Linked DNA regions of Homo sapiens. The protein of the gene in region 3 purifies or fractionates together with the protein of the main gene of each other region. This does not show direct contact. Each region holds a gene or a part of one and is shown on either strand. Other genes may lie near its edges.

Evidence for each region. Proteins that work in one complex are often made in the same cells at the same time.
Region 1: the proteins of STX18 (region 3) and NBAS purify together in Homo sapiens (co-immunoprecipitation; 7 studies listed by BioGRID and IntAct, with this or other methods). This does not show direct contact.
Region 2: the proteins of STX18 (region 3) and SCFD1 purify together in Homo sapiens (affinity purification with mass spectrometry; 7 studies listed by BioGRID and IntAct, with this or other methods). This does not show direct contact.

What each region holds. Positions count from the first base shown.
Region 1 is NC_000002.12:15,551,331-15,558,362, forward strand, and holds part of NBAS (NBAS subunit of NRZ tethering complex), read right to left. Parts: intron 5,490-7,032; coding exon 5,453-5,489; intron 2,809-5,452; coding exon 2,731-2,808; intron 2,144-2,730; coding exon 2,096-2,143; intron 207-2,095; coding exon 163-206; intron 1-162. UniProt on the Homo sapiens protein: Involved in Golgi-to-endoplasmic reticulum (ER) retrograde transport; the function is proposed to depend on its association in the NRZ complex which is believed to play a role in SNARE assembly at the ER. Required for normal embryonic development.
Region 2 is NC_000014.9:30,730,291-30,736,354, reverse strand, and holds the end of SCFD1 (sec1 family domain-containing protein 1), read right to left. Parts: intron 1,566-6,064; coding exon 1,497-1,565; intron 770-1,496; coding exon 746-769; 3' UTR 505-745; downstream 1-504. UniProt on the Homo sapiens protein: Plays a role in SNARE-pin assembly and Golgi-to-ER retrograde transport via its interaction with COG4. Involved in vesicular transport between the endoplasmic reticulum and the Golgi.
Region 3 is NC_000004.12:4,532,031-4,539,062, reverse strand, and holds part of STX18 (syntaxin-18), read left to right. Parts: intron 1-7,032. UniProt on the Homo sapiens protein: Syntaxin that may be involved in targeting and fusion of Golgi-derived retrograde transport vesicles with the ER.

The DNA of each region.
Region 1 (7,032 bases), on a different chromosome or scaffold from region 3:
TTAAGACAGTAAAAAAAAAAAAAAGCAGTTTTTAAAAATTATTTTAATAGTCATGATAATCCTTGTTAATAAATATTTAATATCTATTCTAACTTTTAAGAAACATTGGAAACCATTGCGCATTTGAAATTTTCATTCTTTAAATATTTTGGAAACTCTTACCTTGACATTTCCCAATAATGGATGTAAAATCATCTTTTGCAGACCTGTAAAACATGCAAAATCAAGGCAAAAGTTTTATCGTAACACTGTATAGAACCATAAAATACCAGATACTGTGGACTAGACAGCCTCTATATACAATGCTCAATCATATCTCCTCTCAGACATGGTTTTGTGGCTCAATTATGACCCTTTTGTCAGTGACAATATTTTCTTCCAACCTTATTGCATCAGATACGGAGCTACATCGTTATGGAGACATATATATGGAATATAGTGACACAGCCTAAGTGAATTTACCGTGGTCTTTTCATACAATAGAGATGTCTGGTCCCCATCCCCAAAGGTTCTGAATCAAGAAATGTGGGATGGGGCCCAAGCAAAAATATTTTTTTGCTGGATACATCATTCCTAATTAAGAACCACTGGTCTGTATCATATTACAAAGTTTGATCACTTAGGGGAAAAAGTCTTATTTTGAGAAATCAAACAGCCTTAATAGGTCACCATATTTAAATCAACAACCTATTTTAAATCTGTGATCCTGAAATATATACCAAGTAGAATAATTATTATAAAATATGTTTAAAAATGAAAACTGGTAAACCTTCTAGAAAATAATTTAATAACAATTATCCAAAACCTTCATGTCTGTAGCATTTGACCTAACAATTCTATTTCTATAAAGTTATCCCCAGGAAATAATTACAGATACATACAGATATCAAAAAAACTGGTATGGTCTCATTTATAAAGGAGAAAAATAATACCCAGTATAAAGAGATTAAACTTTGCTATGTGCACCCAATGAAATATTATGGAATTACTATAGTCGACCCTTGAACAACACAGGTTTCAACTATGCAGGTCCATGTCTATGTGGATTTTCTTCTACCTCTACCACTCTGAGATGGCAAGACCACCTTCTCTTCCTCCTCCTCCTCCTCAGCCCACTCCATGTGAAGATGACGATAATGAAGACCTTTGTAATGGTCCACTTCCACTTAATGAACAGTAAATATATTCCTCTTCCATATGATTTTCCTAATAACATTTCCCAAAGAATGAACTCATTTTTCTCAGTTGCTATTGTTGCTATTTCTTTCATAACTGATATACTGTTTAAAAATAAAACACCTGAAAAGTCCAGCTTAGAGATGTCTTTTAGATGTGTATATAATACCACTGAATGTCTCAAGAGGACAGACAGCATAATTGGTCTCAAGTAATACGTAACCTAGGTCATTTGCACACTCATATTCCATCTACAGTTTTGTACCAACAGAGAAAAAGCATACCTATTTTTTTTTTTTTTTTTTGAGACAGAGTCTCGCTCTGTCGCCAGGCTGGAGTGCAGTGGCACAATCTCGGCTCACTGCAACTAGTTCTCAGCTCACTGCCTCCCAGGTTCAAGCAGTTCTCCTGCCTCAGCCTCCCGAATAGCTGGGATTACAGGTGTGCGCCACCATGCCCAGCTAATTTTTGTATTTTCAGTAGAGACGGGGTTTCACCACGTTGGCCAGGATGGTCTCAATCTCTTGACCTTGTGATCTGCCCGCCTCGGCCTCCCAAAGTGCTGAACCATCCCTACTCTTTTACACCTTCCTGAGTTTCTGTTTAGCTAATATAGCAGTAAATAGTCACACAACAGTGATTTCCAGAGTTCTGGAGGATAGGCCTCATTTACTGAGAAAGTAAAACTTCTTAAGAGGCAACGGAATGATCTGGGGAAGGAGAAAGATAAGCATATAACTCTGAGAAAGCATCCTTAATTTTTTAACTGGCGTAAGTTGGTGTTTGACACTCACAAAATTAAGTGAGTTAATAATAAAATCCTTTTAAATATATCCCCTATAAAAATCTTAGTTTCCATTTATAGAGTAACAAATATTTCTCAAAGGAAATCTTGAATATGAATAATATTAACAATTACCTGATTTCCACACACTGATCTTGAACAGCAGCCAAAAGCTTTCCATTGCTTTTATGGAGAAGAAAGAGGGGGAAGAAAATCTATTATGAATATCTATAGCAGTTTTCAGCACAGATGGAATTATTTAATAAGTTAAAAATCATTTTTAAATTTGTTCACATGCTTTAATTATCCATCTTTTGACCTTACAATTAGATGAGGATACAGGTACAAAAGCACACAAAATGATTTAATACAGCATGAATTAACATGTTTAAGCTCTCTCTCCCCCACTCTCCCCATCTCTCTCCCTCTCTCCCCCTCGCTCCCTCCCACTCTCTCTCCCTCTCCTTCTCTTTACCTCCCTCCCTCTTTCTCTCTCTCCCTCCCTCCCTCTCTCCCTCCCTCCCTCTCTCCCTCTCTCTCTCCCTCTCTCCCTCTTCCTCTCTCCCTCCCTCCCTCTCTCCCTCTCTCTCTCCCTCTCTCTCTTTCCCTCTCTCTCTAAAAAGTTTAAACAATACTAAATATTTGCAACAAAGAAATTTACACACAATAAAAATCAAGACTGAAAGCCACAAGCATTCCAAAATTAACGTCCATAATGAAATGTAAAAGCTAATCCAGACAGAAAAACATTGAATTTCACACTTCCTTACCTTGCAAGTACCAAATGCCAGTTTATCTGTTTATTAACCAAGCGAACCAGTCCATCAGGGAGCAAAAAAGGTGCCGGGCTGAAATCACAACACATTAGTTAGCTTAAAATCTAATCATGAAAACCACATATATGCAGACAAATAGCACATATACTTATAGAGAGAGACACAGATTTTTTTCCATTAGAATATAAAATTTGAATATTAGCAAACCCAAAACCCAAAGTTACTATTTGGTAGCTGAAATTTGACCATATATATTTCTCTATTTCCAAAAAACACAGTGATGTGTTCAAAGGTATAAATGTTATGTACTTCCCAGGTAACAGACATCTAGCATACCAATCACAGAGCAGAGTACACTTATACCAACCCTTTCTGCTCTAACTACCTAGGAACTCTGGCTCAACTGTAACAAAAACAAATTCTAGCATAGAGTTAAACTCACAAGAAAGAAAGATAAATTTCCAAGTACTAGAAATGAAAAAGTCACTGAAAGCTAGAATTGGGCACAGGGTAAAGAGAGAGATAAGAACTCAAAACAGGACTTAGCACACGAGATAGGAAATGAGCTACTGAACCAAAGAGAGGACAGGAGTTGGAAGTGAGACTCCTGCAAAGGCCAGGATGCTCAAATGACTGCACCAGGTCATTGAAAGAACTAGAAACACCTCACCATAGGCCCAGGGAGACTAAAGACTCTCTTCTCTCCCTGGAACTATGGTTCTGTGGAGGATAAGAATAAAATCTCCTATGAAAAAGTAAAAGTCCAAGTCTGTACTATATGTAAGATCAGATTACAATTTCACTTTACTCATGTGATGCAAGAATCTGCAAGCATAAGTTCAAAATAAAACCATTCACAAAAGACACGAAACTACTCATCATAAGTGAGTAAGCAGACACAGCAAATTAGAGGATTAATACCCGAAGAAATCAAGAAAACAGATGGAAAAGAAGAATAAAGAACATAATTTCATGAAATAGAAAAAAAATAAATTATGGAAATCAGAAAACACAAAATAGGATTCCAAAATGTTAGTGGCCAGGCACAATGGTATGTGCCTATAGTCGCAGCTACACGGGAGGCTAAGGCAGGAGGATTGCTTGAGCACAGGAGTTTAAAGCTACAGTGTACCATGATCTTGCCTGTGAATAGCCACTATACTCCAGCCTGACCAACACAATAAGACCCTCTCTTAAAAAAAAAAAAAAAATTAGTAATATACATGTAGTACATTTACGCTCATTTTTTAAAACACAAAATAATATCAAAAGACAGTTACAAAAATATAATGAAGATACAAAACATGTATGTGAATACTACCTATATGAGGATGATAATTTCCTCTAGAAGGGAAGGGAAAAGAAAAAGGGAAAGGACTTGAGATGTAACATTTTGCATAAAAACAAAAAGAGCTAGCTGATACAGGTTTATTATATTGTCAATAATTCTCAGTATGTTTATATTTCATAATTAAAAGAACTTTTTTAAAAAAAGAAGAAAAAGTCACTTGAAACAAATACTGACCCCAAAACCTTTGGGTTTAATTACCATAAACTCAAGAGCACAAATTGAACTATAATCTTTTTGAAAGCAGCATATCATGAGACAGATGAATCACTTAATGGTGCATTTGCAACCTGTACAATGATTCAAGGAAAAAGGCTTCTCAGGAGGAAGGGAGACAAAAAGATACCTACTTCTGATGCCTGATCATAAGGTTCTCACACAGAGGACAGGGCTTGTAGCAGAGTTAACTTTTTGAGTCTTCCTTCTCAATAAATAAAAAAAAGAATTATCAAGCAGCAACCTGAACAAGACAAGCTTGACACCTCATCCAAGGGTGTTCAGGACTAACAAGCTGTCGCCTAGAGAAGTCAGAAAACACAGCCCACCTCCCACACTCCTATCCTCTCCTTCCACTCTCTCTTCCTACTCATTGCTCTATCCTATCATATCCCACACCCACAAAAAAAGTGACACAATTAAGTATAGAAATTGTAAATATGCATACATATATACATGTATGCACATACACACACACATACATAGAGTAAAAGCAGAAAGACGTTGGAGCAAGTCCTAGAGAACGCCAAAGGTCTCTTTTATGGAACTATATTATCTCTGGAACTTTACGACAAGATATCCTCAACGAAGAAGCAATCTATGTAAATAATTCTATAAAACAATTCCTACACATGTATCTAAAAGCAGAATTATAACTTTTTTGTCATAATAATAATTTCTTTGTTCTTTCTAAAGCTGGAAATTAGCATCATCCCTGCAAATATACTTAACACTCAAGGAATTAAAAAATATACAAGAACTGAAACCTAAAGAACCTTCTCTGATATACAGCAGTTGAATATTAACCACAAGTGAGATGACATGACAAGAACAAAAATGTATTTTAAAAGATATGCAGGCTACAGATGCTTCATATGGACATTCAAGATAAGCCTGAGAATAGTCATCAGAGGAAGCAGAAATTGTCATGAGACATTCTTAATAGTAACTAAGGGAACAAAAACTACCCTAAGTCTACTGAGATATCTTGTCAGATTCTACCTAAATGTTTGAAATGTCTCATACTGAGTTTGCCTGAATGTCAGCAACTTTATCATGATCTAGAATTCAATTATGAAAACAAATCATATATAGAACAATATTGTTTATATTTGATGTTCATACTGTTTCTCTGAAGAACCGAAGACTCACCTGTACCAGATGTATTGGCGTAAAAATAATAAACGATCTGTAATCAAAAGAAATGGCAAAGCCAAATATAAATCAGCTGTTAAGAATCATTTTCAAATTAGATTTATAGATGAGAAATCTAAAATATACTACAGAGCGAGTCATTAAAAAAAATAAAGAACTCAAGTCTTAAAATGAGAGACTAAATATAACCTAATATACACTGTAACATTTACAGGGTCATATACTTATTAAATTCCATGTTTGTGTGTTATTCAAAAGTTTCAAGTATTTCCTAACTGTTCAAGAAATAAAAGCAGTTTGAGATGTTAAATTTAATCTAAGAAGCTTTCATGAAACCATGGACTAGAAGTTATAATAATCACCCCTTAGAAACCAAAATATTTGTATAAAAAATTAAAGCAAGATATATTTTACACTTTATAGCAAAGATTTTTAAAACAGTAATACCTAAAATGGGAAAGCCCACGGAAAACAAAACCTCTAACACGCTATAAAAAACAATGCTTTCTATCATCCTAAATGTACATGTATGTGTGTACCTGTGTATGCAGTTAGGTATATATCAATGGAAAAATATCTAAAGAATAACAGATTCTCTCTAGGTGGTATGAGGACAAATTTTTTTCTAATTTGTAGTTATCTATAGTGTCTGTATTTTCTACAATGAATTTTTATTATTTGTACACATTTTCTAAATTCTCAAAATTTAAAAGCATTTGTCATTATGAAAACTGAATATGCTAGTGCTTCTTGTATCAGAAGATAAAATTAACTATAATTAACTGTAATTTTATCAGAAGATAAAAGGATAATCAGAAGATTACAGTTAATTTCAAGTACTTAACTTCTGTGAAAATGAATTTTCTCTTTATAAGGAACTTAAATTCACTGGTATAAGGATGGACTTTGAAGCCAGAAAGACATGCAGTCAAATTCCAAATGAATGACCTTGAGCAAGTTTTCTTATCTAAAATCATAAAGGAGTAACGGCACCTTTCTGGTCTGATAAAAGGACTCTATTAATGAATATGGTAAACCCGTCATGGCACCAGCTCAGTAAACCTAGTGCTCAATCCTTTCTCAGACTCTTGTTAGTTCATACGTAAAATTTGTCAGGAGTTAAATGAATACCCTGGCTTATCAAATCTGTAATTTGAGTATCTCTGACCAGATCTATCTGAAACACCACATAGACCTCTTAAAATAGTCTCTCAGTGTATTTTCACCTTCAACATCCACTGACTTTCTGAGACTCATACTGGCTTTGACCTTCATTCCTTCTAGAACAGCGTCCCCCAACCTTTTTGGCACCAGGGACTGGTTTTGTGGAAGACAATTTTTCCATGCAACCTAGATCCCTCACACGTGCAGTTCACAATAGGGTTTGCACTTCCCTGATAATCTAATGCTGCCGCTTATCTGACAGGAAGTGGAGCTCAGGTGGTAATGCTCACTCACCCATCGCTCACCTCCTGCTATGCAGCCTGTTTCCTAACAGACCACAGACTGGTACCAGTCCATGGCCCAGGAATTGAGGACACCTGTTCTAGAATACATCCATAATGGTTAAACCAAAG
Region 2 (6,064 bases), on a different chromosome or scaffold from region 3:
CTGTTGATATGAGGCTCATTAGGAGGGAAGGCTCCCTGGCCTTTATAATAGGAAGTGTTTATTTTTCTTCCCTTTCAAGCAATTGGCTTGCTTTTTATCTTACAGACGTACTGAACGGTATGACTGATCAATACTTCTTGTCAGTACTGCATACCAAAGAAGCTTGGAATCAAGTTTAACACTAACTTTTACGTATTATTTACAACTTTATGAGATGACTGTTTTGTATTTGTCCATTCCAAATCATGTTAGTGTTGCCTTGATCACCATTACATGAAGGAGGGACTTTATGTGATAAAATATACATAGGTGTGCCAGAAGAAGGGAACTTAAAGTGGCTTAAAATCTCCATCTAAAATCTATAGGCAACATGGATACCCAACAAACTATGAGAAAGTAGTTGTATAATTAAAATGCATACAAGTAGGGGACTCACGAACCAATCAAATAAAATTTAAATATGATAACCTTAAAATGTCACCAGCTTCAATCATAACCTATTAGTTATTATATTAGTACTTTCTGATTTATCAGAGAAAATGAACAATGTTGAAATTTTATTTCTGAAATGTTTCTTTTAATCAATACATATTAAGTATATAATTTCCTTAAAAATTAACAAATAACTCTGATTTTCACTGTTAGGACACTGTTACAGAGAAGGAAACATATTGCTCTTCTAACTTTTCTTCTTTTTACATTTATCCACATTCCAAGTAGATTATCATAGTAAGGTTCTTCTGTGTTACTTTTGTCCAAGTTGTGACAACTAAAACAAAACACAAAATCATACATAAAACTTTTAAAAAAGATCATAAAAGAAACATTCAAACATATTTGTAAACCCCTTAATAAATTACACTTCCTATTTTATTCACTGCATTCCTAGAATAATAAATCTTAATGTTCACCACTAACTCAAATGTTAAAACTGAAGGCTGGTCATGGTGGCTCATGCCTGTAATCCTAGCTATTTGGGAGGCTGAGGTGGGAGGATCACTTGAGGCCAGGAGTTTGAGACCAGCCTTGGCAACATAGCAAGAGACTGTCTCTACCAAGAAAAAGAAAAGAAAATGGAATTGCAATAAACGTCGTCATAGTAAAGAAATGTAAACATTATTAGGTAACGTTCAATTGATGGAAAAGAAAAACCCTGGGAATTAAAAAAATTAGTGCTAACTTTGTGACAATATAAAGAGAAATGTCATGAGTGACACACTACTGACAGTTCTCATATATTTTTGTATTTCTAAAGGATCATTAAAAGCCAAAGAAAAGGCTTTCAGTTCTGGAAGGATGGGCAAACTCCTACTGGAAACATTATTACTTATCAAGGTTTTCTTAGTCGTCCATGAAAACACCTTATCTTGGTATAGCTGGATGGCTTTGGTTTCGGCTGGTTCAGGTGAGTAAGTGGTTTTCTTTCTCTCTTTTGAAAAATACCAATAGCAACTAGGGGTATGTTAACAGAAACAAACAACAAATGTATACTTTACCTGTTTTATGAACTGTGTAGCATTAAAAAGCTCACTGCAGCCATATAAAATGTGTTTGCCTTGTTTCCCCTGTAAAAATCAGAGTCAGAACTTAGATACAAGTAACAAGAAATATATTCAATATTCCCAAGAAAAGAGATTAATATGCTAGTTTTTTTGTTATTCTTAACAGTCTTTCTTTGGGATACTGTTGGATTTTAGTATACACATCTACCTAAAATTGCATGAAATAAAGAGGAATAAAGTGGTGAAATGAGCATAGTATTTTTGTCCCCCAAAATATATACTATGGCATACTATTGGTGCCATTTCCTATTACACTAAAAATAGAAGGAATCTCACTGTCAAATTTCACAGGAGCAACAGTTACCTATAAAATCTTAGAACAACATTCTTCCAATGTAGGATGTGTACTACTTGAAGAATACATTCGAGTTTCTTTATGCTGAAAGTGGGCTATGGTGCAGGTGGCATGGATTGTGCTTTTAGTCTCACTTGAGCAACACAGTATTTATAAGTTAATACATCTCATTCCACATTGTCAACATCAGGAATAAAAGTCACAGTTACAATGTTGGAACCCAATCACAACAGCCAAAACTTCTCTATTAGCGATTTGCTAATTTCTTGTATGTATCGTGAACCTGAAGGTAAATTCATGAGATTTCTTTTGTAATATAAAAAAGTTTATTCTAGAACAAAGTAATTTGAGGATTCATCAAAGGACAGAGGAATGATGGCTTTGTAACACAACTCTGTGATGTATAAGCTGAGCAAATATTGTTGGCTGAATACATGTCCTAGATGGCCATCTCTGAGAATAAATAAAACAAAAGCCACAACTCATATTTTTTTCAAAATGAGATGGTATATGGGTCATATAATTGGGATTCTTGTGGCTAACAGGCATTAATTAAAGGTAGAGGTCACAGTATGCAAGGAGAAAGCAGGCACAGGGAAACATTAGAGGGGTCCAGAACTTCTAGGCATAGCTCCCAGGAGAACCTGATTCTTGTTCAAGGAGAGGTCTTTTATGCCTCTCTGGTCAGGTAGGCAAAATTGGGCTGCATGACCAGCATGACCAGGCTCAACTGCAGAAACCAAGGGAACATGACAGAAACCAGGTGAAAAATGTAAAATCAATCTTTACATTTTCTATTAAACAATGCTGGCAAGCCAGCCCAAGGTTGCCCCCTGGTTTATCGTAGTCTCTAGCCCAGGCCCAGAATTCATCACTAGTTAATACTTCATTCAGGTTTGGCTAAACATCAGCACCATGGATCCTGGTATTCTTGGAGATAAGCACAGGGGTACAGTAGCCCAGTTGAGATTAATCCTGACTTGTACAGTCCCCACCCTGGACCAAGCTTTCTTAACCAAATTACTCATCATCATTCTTTTCTAATCGTTTTTAGCCATCCAATGAAGTGTAGGTGTAATTTTAAAGAAACACTGTAGTTTACCAAACATTCCAGTGCAAACTTGTTCTTAATCATGTACAAGCTTGATGACCCCTTTACTTACTCTGTCAGTTAAAAATTGAACTTTATGGGCTGGGCGCAGTGGCTCATGCCTGTAATCTCAGCACTTTGGGAGGCCGAGGCAAGTGGATCACAAGGTCAGGAGTTCGAGACCAGCCTGGCCAGCATGGTGAAACCCCATCTCTACTAAAAATACAAAAATTAGCCAGGTGTGGTGGCGCATGCCTGTAATCCCAGCTACCCAGGAGGCTAAGGCAGGAGAACTGATTGATTGAACTCGGGAGGCAGAGGTTGCAGTGAGCCAAGACTGCGCCACTGCACTCCAGCCTGGGTGAGAGAATGAGACTCTGTCTCAAAAAAAAAAAAAGAAAAAAAAATCGAACTTTATAAAATGTACCAGTATATTGATTCAATGTAAAATTAACTCAGTGTAGTTCTTTCTCTAACCAATCACCTTCCATCAAGAGAATACCTTGTGGTTTTAAGTCAAGTTCCCAATTCATCAATATTAGTATTATCAAATGTTTTGATAAAATCAGTCAAATTATTTTTTACCAATTATACCAAAGTTATACCAAATAGCATTTACATTGTGAGTTAGATTAACAACATTACTAAATAAATCAGAATTACAGCAGTATTTTCTGGCACTTGCCCCTTATGTTGTGGACTAGTATAAACCAAGGGCCATGTTAGTTAATTCTGTATTGCCAGTCTCATGTAGGCATAGTCGCATGTTTAGTTTCATACTACGAGACTGTACTGACACAGGTTTCTAATGATGTGAGGAAGGCTGTCATAGACCTAGCTCAGTTCCTTCTTAATAGGGCTGAATGGTAGGGAAAAGATTAGGATTATTCAGGACAAAAAAACTAAAAGGGATTTAAAAATCCTCTCAGGACAATAAACTGGGGAGCTTAGTAGCTACTAAAAATTTAATGGATCTAAAGGGCATCTATGAATAATGTAATAAAATATATAATGGTCAAAGACTAGATGCTTTGCCCGTATGATGAGAAAGAAGACAAGGATGTCTGCTCTTGCCTCTTCTATTCAACAATGTACTGAAGGTTCTAGCCAGGGCAGTTGCAGAAGATAGAAAAGAAGCAAAACTATCTCTATTAATAGATAACATGATCTTGTATATAGAAACTTCTAAAAATCCATTAAAAACAATTGGAACTAATAAACTCAGCAAGGCTGTGAAACGTAAGATCAACATAAAAATCGGTTGGATTTTTATGCACTTGGAATGAGGAATCCAAAAATGAACTTAAGAAAATGCCTTTTGTCTTTGACAAAATTCAACAGCCCTTCATGCTAAAAACTCTCAATGAATTAGGTATTGATGGGACGTATCTCAAAATAATAAGAGCTATTTATGACAAGCCCACAGCCAATATCATACTGAATGGGCAAAAACTGGAAGCATTCCCTTTGAAAACTGGCACAAGACAGGGATGCCCTCTCTCACCTCTCCTATTCAACATAGTGTTGGAAGTTCTGGCCAGGGCAATCAGGCAGGAGAAAGAAATACAGGGTATTCAATTAGGAAAAGAGGAAGTCAAATTGTCCCTGTTTGCAGATGACATGATTGTATATCTAGAAAACCCCATTATCTCAGCCCAAAATCTCCTTAAGCAGATAAGCAACTTCAGCAAAGTCTCAGGATACAAAAATCAATGTGCAAAAATCACAAGCATTCCCAAACATCAATAATAGACAAACAGAGAGCCAAATCATGAGTGAACTCCCATTCACAATTGCTTCAAAGAGAATAAAATACCTAGGAATCCAACTTACAAGGGATGTGAAGGACCTCTTCAAGGAGAACTACAAACCACTGCTCAACGAAGTAAAAGAGGACACAAACAAATGGAAGAACATTCCATGCCCATGGATAGGAAGAATCAATTATCCTGAAAATGGCCATACTGCCCAAGGTAATTTATAGATTCAATGCCATCCCCATCAAGCTACCAATGACTTTCTTCACAGAATTGGAAAAAACTACTTTAAAGTTCATATGGAACCAAAAAAGAGCCTGCATTGCCAAGTCAATCCTAAGCAAAAAGAACAAAGCTGGAGGCATCACACTACCTGACTTCAAACTATACTACAAGGCTACAGTAACCAAAACAGCATGGTACTGGTACCAAAACAGAGATATAGACCAGTGGAACAGAACAGAGCCCTCAGATATAATACCACACATCTACAACCATCTGATCTTTGACAAACCTGACAAAAACAAGAAATGGGGAATGGGTTCCCTATTTAATAAATGGTGCTGGGAAAACTGGCTAGCCATATGTAGAAAGCTGAAACTGGATCCCTTCCTTACACCCTATACAAAAATTAATTCAAGATGGATTAAAGACTTAAATGTTAGACCTAAAACCATAAAAACCCTAGAAGAAAACCTAGGCAATACCATTCAGGACATAGACATGGGCAAGGACTTCATGTCTAAAACACCAAAAGCAATGGCAACAAAAGCCAAAATTGACAAATGGGATCTAACTAAACTAAGGAGCTTCTGCACAGCAAAAGAAACTACCATCAGAGTGAACAGGCAACCTAAAGAATGGGAGAAAATTTTTGCAATCTACTCATCTGACAAAGGGCTAATATCCAGAATCTACAAAGAACTCAACTTTACAAGAAAAAAGCAACCCCATCAAAAAGTGGGCGAAGGATATGAACAGATACTTCTAAAAAGAAGACATTTATGCAGCCAACAGACACATGAAAAAGTGCTCATCATCACTGGCCATCAGAGAAATGCAAATCAAAACCACAATGAGATACATCTCACACCAGTTAGAATGGCAATCATTAAAAAGTCAGGGAACAACAGGTGCTGGAGAGGATGTGGAGAAATAGGAACACTTTTACACTGTTGGTGGGACTGTAAACTAGTTCAACCATTGGGGAAGACAGTGTGGCGATTCCTCAAGGATGTAGAACTAGAAATACCATTTGACCCAGCCATCCCATTACTGGGTATATACCCAAAGGATTATAAATCATGCTGCTATAAAGACACATGCACAGGTATGTTTATTGCGGCACTATTCACAACAG
Region 3 (7,032 bases):
TCCCTACCTTCCAACAACAGGCTGATTGCTTCTGCATCATTCTTTTAAACATTTAACTTTTATGCTCAATTTTACTAAATTTATATATACTCAAATGCATGTCTACCCATTAAATTACAAATGGAGAGTAACGACTTTTCAGATTATTTGGGGGAGGAACTTATATTATTCGAACAACTCCAAATAATAATGAATATGTCACTCTGCAATGGGAATTTGATTAGTTAACTCATTTGAAGTGTGGGACTAGTGAGGATGATGGGATTGGAAAGAGACCTGGGCCTTGGGTTCAAATCTCGCTTCTGCTACTTAGAAATGGGTGAACTTGGGCAAGTCTGACTCTCGTTTTCCATTTCTATAAAGTGGACGTGATAATACCCTACTTAACTCACAAGCTAAGTAGGGTAGCTTCTGAGTTACCCTACTCACATAGTCTATATGTATGTATTTTAAAAAAACAGACTGATTATTATTGTTCCCCCAAACTACCTCCCCCCTCCTCATGTAGGCCATTTAGACATATTTTCTTTAGTGGCACCAAGCTGTATTTTCCAAACCACTTAGTTTTCTTGCACTTTCATTCCTTAATTTAGTTAAGTGCGTGAGGAATGAGTGAAAATCCTGAGCAGGTACTGATGAATCAGCGGTGGTGCAGAAGTACTGTCTGCATTCGTAAAAGATGGTAACATTTCTTTGCCAAGGTGAAACTCTTTCAGTGATGGCAGATGTGTGGCAGGTATGCAGCTTTTACTTTCTTTTCTTCCTTGTGATCATGGAAGCCAGTGCTAATTTCTTAGTGGATCCCTATAGCTCAGAATCCTTTGCAACATTGTACCCCAGGAGCCGTTACCTGTTATTAGGCTTGACATTCAAGTTGAAATCTACTTGACATATAGTAACAGTAGAATCTGTATGCTTAAAGCAGACCCATGTTTGTTTGTTTGTGGTTTTTTTTTTTTTCACTCAAAAGGACCTTGTGTTCATTTTGTTAATAGATAAGAAAACTAACACCCAAATAAATGAAATTACTTGCCCAAAGTCGTAGCAGTTGAGGTCATAGCACAGAGCCATAAGTAGAAGCCAGGTCCTTTGACCTGGTTTAATGCTGCTCTCCCTCTGCCCACTACATTCTCCTGTAATTTTTAAACCAGAATTTGTTTGGTTTCTGAATGGCAGTGAGTTTCTTCTTCTTGAGTTAATTCTGAATACTGCATACTGAATGGAACCTGGGGCAGAAAGACTTGGATTTGAATGTGTCTTATCTGTTATATGAACTTGGGGAAGCCACTTAATTTCAGTTACCTTATGGCTAAAATAGAGTGAGTAATAGCAACCTTATAAAGTTGTTAGGTGAAATAAGAAAAGGTATGCAGGTGCCTACATGAGTCCGAGTTCTTTTGTTTGCAAGTAATAGTAACCTAATGTAAATTAACCTGAACAAAGTGGGAATACCTTAGCTCATATAACTGGAAAATTCAGGGATAGAGCTTCTTTCTCTAGCTCTTATCCATAAAGCCCAGGAAGGAAATCTAGTTGGTTCTGCTTGATCCTCTGCTCTCTCTTACAGTAGTCATTATAGCCAGAGGAATGTTTCTTTAATTGGTCAGGTCTATGTCCACCTCAATCTGTGGTTAATAGGTGGCTTGGATGCTATGTAGCCCCCACCAGAATCATGGAAAAGGCAGTGCCCTGTCTGGGAATAGGGAGTAAGGAATGTTGGGCAAGCAAAAGCAACAAAAACATCCCTCACAGTGCCTGGGACAGTGCCTGATGTGCCTTCACCTTGCCTGCCTGGCTGTCTTCAACTCTGTGGGGAATGAGAAACTAGAAAATGCAGGAGTTTATAATGACAGGTTCTGGGGTGAGGATAGGCCTAGAGATGCCTCATAGTGGCAGCTCTTCTATTCTCTTACTGACTTATAAAGGTTACAGGAGCCAGGGGGGGCTACCACACAGGTAAGCAAGAAACCCGTAAGCACCGAACTGCTGTGCAGAGGCAGCAGGGGCTACTGAAGAGCACCGCACAGGAAAGCAGGAACCCATGTTCTAGCCGCAGGTCTGCCAGTAAGTGGGCTGCTCATGTGATTTCTCTGGGCCTCAGTTTCCACATTAGTAAAACTGAAAGCTTCGATTAGATAACTGCAGAGATTTCTTGTAGAATAAGGACACTTTGATTCTAAATAAGGTAATAATGATCCTGAATTGCTGGGAACTCTATTTTCAGATTAGGCATGCAGATGAGATTTTGTTCTTGATAATACATTCTTTTGTGGAAGCTAAACTTCGTTTTTTATTTACTTATTTTTAGGAATTGATTATCTTGAATCTTTGGCTGAAATTCAGAGTTCTTGGAGTGGCCCAAAGCCAGATGATCTGGCCCTGCTCCCTCTCTGGCCTCACCTCCTCTCCCCCTCCTTTTGCTCACTCTACTCCAGCTATTCTGGCCTCTTTCATTTTCTCACATGCATCAGGCACATTTCCCGCTTAGAACCTTTGCATCCCTCTACCTGGAACACTTTTCTCCTAGATTCCATATGGCTTGATCTCTCAGTTCCTCAGGTCTCTGGTTAAATGTTGCCTCCGTGAGGCCTTCCTTGAATGCCCTGCGTAAAGTGGCCTCCTTTTTCTGTCCCTTCCCCTAGCAGATCATATATCCATTTATTTGTTGTTTGTCTACTCGAATATATGTTTTCTGAAAATGAAGAACTTTGTGTTGTTAGCACTGAATCTGTAGCTTCTAGAACAGTGTGGGGATGCAGGTGCTTAATAAATACTTCTTGAATTAATGAATAACTGTTAATCTACTGTCTCTCTCAGTTTTGGGGCTAGGTGATCTCTGTCCAAGGCTCATTGCAGTTCTAAAGCTCTGTGATACTCACATGATTCTTGAATATTACATGATGCACATTTATACTTAGTCCGGTATTAAGAGTAAACATTCAGTAAATAGTAGCTTTTATTACTAAGATTCCGTTCCTCCCTCAACACATTTACATTCTAGTGGAAAAGCAGACACAGGTAGCACAACAACTCAGGTATGAGTAACAACTGTAACTTTTTTAGCATTGATTCCCCAGGTCCTCCTTGATTTCCTTTTCAGAGGCAGTGTTGACTTTCTGTGCCAGTGTTGGGACCCAAAGGTTGAGCTGGGACCACCTGGATTATAAATTTTACCTAAGGGTTGAGTATAATCATAGTTAGGGGATTTCAGTTGAGGGAGCATGATTCAAAGAAGCAGTATCATGCAACAGGTACAGTGAGTCCATGAGAGGCAGGAAGGACAGGAGATAGGGCCAAACCATACAGAAGTAGGATTGGGAAACAATGGAGGTTTAGAATGCAAGCTGTGAACAGAGCATGAGTGTGCTGAATCATATAGATTTCTTTTTAAATATGGCAGGAACCTTTTAGCTAATGAAATAAGGAGCAGCTTTGGTAAAAGCTGGAGTGAGAGGTTTGGGGAGAGAGGTTCATTCGCCAGCCTACTACCCTTCTGTTACCTTCCCCCTCTCCTTGAGGAACCCCTAGGAACCAACCAGAGGGCCCAGAGACACACAGTTTAAAAACCACTGCTTTAATGCTCTCCAGGGCCTGTTTTAGCTTCATGATGCTGTGTTTTTATGGATTGCAATAACTGAGTGTGTACTATAAGGAGAGCTCAGCACTGCAGAGTTTTCATGAGATTGTGAGTCCTTTGTGTGGATTACACTTCTGAATTTTGCCCAAGACTTAGGAGGACTGTAAGTTTTGAAATGTATTTATTCAATAATTGATTTATACCATCATCCAATAAACACTGAACATCTGGTGTGTCAGGCATTGTGGGGCCATAAAAAAACTATGAGGCATATTAACCTGTTCTTTGAAAAGATAGATAAAGGATACCTAAATCTCTTTAGGGGAGAATCAGTGGAAACCTCAAAGTGATCATCAAACTTGGCTTTTAAGGAGAAAAACCATTCCACCAGACGTAGGTAGAAGGGATGGGTGTGAGCAAAGGCAGTGGCACACAACAGTAGGGCAGTTTGGGGCCAGAGGCAAGACTGGTGTGACTAGAGCCCTTTTCTGGAGGAGGCCCGGGTGAGGGTCAGAGTGTCAGGGGGTGAGGTTGTACTGAAGTAGGTTAGAGCAGGGGTCCACAAACTGGCCCACAGGCCAAATCCGGCCCACTGCCTAGTTGTGTAAATAAAGTTTTATTGGAATATGTCATTTTCATTTGTTTAAATATAGGCCAAGAATGCTTTCATGCTGTAGCAGCAGAGCGATAGCCTGCAGAGGCCTGCAAAACTTAAAATATTTACTGTATGACCCTTTAGAGAAAAAGTTTGCCAACTCTTAGATGAGAGCGTTGTTAGCAGTGCTGAGGAGTTTGTACTTTATGCTCTGGGCTATGCGGCAGAGGCACGAAAGGATCATGTTTGTATTTTAAACTAATCCGCAGTGTTGATGATGGGTTTGGAATGTAACAAGACTGACATGGAGAGCTAAGCAGGATGCTGTTGCAGTAATTCAGGTGAAACTGAGGAGCCGGTGACAGTAGGGTTGGATGGGAGAAAAATAGATGAAGTAGGTATTTAGTATTTAGTAGGTAGGCTCAACAAACTTAGTAAAACTTAGTAACTAATTAGTGGAAATAGAAAGAGGAGGAGGTAGAATAATTTCCAGCTTTCTGGTTGAAAAGTTAAATGGTAGAAGATTACAATAACAGAGTTTTCAGGGTTAGAGTTGAGTGCCAGTTATTCATGCCTTCTTCTTAATTCTAAATAGTAGAGAATAGATCCAAGGAGCCCATGGACACTGGAGTTTTATTAAGACAGCATGTGGTGGATAACTCCCCAGCAGCAGTGCTTACTGATAAACCTGGATTGAGGAACTCAATGGGGTCCTTCAGCTTTGCCACATTTAGACCTTGGAGACAGTTGAGTACAAAATAGATACCCAGTGCCTATGTACCTATGCCCAGCCAGTTGCATGGAGATTGAGACCTGTCTCAGCAATACGGCCATCACTAGGCTGGGACTTATGGTGGCGAGAAGTACAAGGAGGTAGAAACTTAGGATGGCCCGTGTGGATGCCAGGTTCTCTCCTGTTATTCTCAGTTCTGCTTTCTTTATTCTTGAATGAAACTCATCTTGGGGTTAATGATTATATCACATGTTGTAGAAGCATGATTCTCAGGGATAGTTGATTCATTTTCTCCTGCATTCCATGAAGAATCTGGAGTGTGTCAAAGAGTTCCCTCTTTCCTCACTTTTGAGTTGGCAGTTGACCAATTATTATGTGTCTCACCTACTAGGGTAGGGCTGCAGAAACACGTCTTCTCAGTGTGACGTTTTTAGTGAATTCTTCCCATCAGGGGCTGGCTTCATTTTGGAGGCCCAAGAACCAGATTTTTCTACATATTGAGGCTAGAGCCATCTGTTAGGGCAGATATCAGCCAAGCTCACGTCAACTTGTGTGTAAGTCAGAATACCAGTTAATTTGTTGTAAGCACTGTAACTAATGTGCAGAAGAATACAGATTTTGGAAACTCAGTCATTTTTGAGCTTCTGCTATAGGTCAGGAACTCGGTTAAGGACTTTATGTGCCCGATCTCATTTAATTTTTCTCTTTTTCAGGGGATAGAAATATATTATTGAGTGATTTTATAATATTGATTGTATTATGAATAATGTGGTTGTTGAATTCATGTAAACTTGATGTTTGACGTCTCTTACTACATGGAAATCCACATGGACTCCCTCTGGTGGGTAAAGTATCAGTGAAGTCTACACATGTTAATTATGGCTTATGGTATGAAAACCATTTTATGTTTAAAGCGTATTACATTTAATATTGACTTAAAAAGAGGCAACTTCAAAACTCCTCTAAAAGAAAGTGAATAAACCAGAGGAATGAAAGTATGATATATTGAATGAACCCAATAACTCAGATATGGAAAGCTTGCAGCACAGTTGAAATTTTAAACCCGGCAATACTTTTTTCTTTGTTACAGACTTTCAGATCCTCAAAGACTATGAATACTAAAGTTTGCCAGCTTCTACTTATCACCATCTAACATATGTCTGTTTGTCAAAATGTTCTTACCATGGAATTTGTAAGCTGTATTTAACCAAGAGAGAGACACTTCCATTTCACAATATTGTAACATTTCTATCTAATTTGTAGTCAAATGATAAGAAAACTCTGGTGAAATGAACACTTGCCTTTTCTTGGACATTTTCTCCAGCAGTGAATTCTATAGTCTTAGCAGAAGTAACAGGCTACAGCATATCTTAACTCAGAGGAATTGAGAAAGGAATTAAAAAGTGTACGTTTCGAATTGTAAATACTTTTGGCCTTTGCCAATAGCTTACTATGTGATCTTGGAGAACTCACCTAACCTCTCTGGGTGTCACTCTTCTGATTTTTTTAATGAGAGGTTTTGACTAGATAATCCATAAGGACCTTTTCAATGAGATGGTTGCATGACTCAGTACTCTTTATCTGAAAGTCCCAGGATGTATTTTTAAATACTTTTTGCAGTGATAACTGCCCATTACCTTGTGATATTTTCCCTGAGTCTCTGAAAGAGTGAGGTTTTTTTTTTGTTTTGGTTTGTTGTTGTTGTTGTTGTTTTCAAAGTTAGCATTTTTGGTGTGTTTTCACAAATGTATTTGATTTAAAAGTGGTGATATAATTTTATAATGGAATTTTATTAGCAGGGCACATTTTTGAAGTTGACTATTTTAAAATCTGATTATAAAATTAGTAAGTGCTCATTAAACAGAATAAAGAAGAAAATAGTTCACATTTAGTACCAGTGTCAGGAAATAGCCATAGTTAAAATTCTGGTGTTTAACTTTCCAAACATTTTTTCTGTTAAATAAAATCAAGATTCTTCTACAATACGGTTATGTAATCCCTCTCCATATGCCCTCCCCTCTTCCTTGGGGGAGTAGAGAGGGGTTACATAACAGTATTGTAGAAAACAATGTATTTTGGAAATTTTTAAATATCAGTATGTATTGCTCTTACCACCAGTTTATTTGG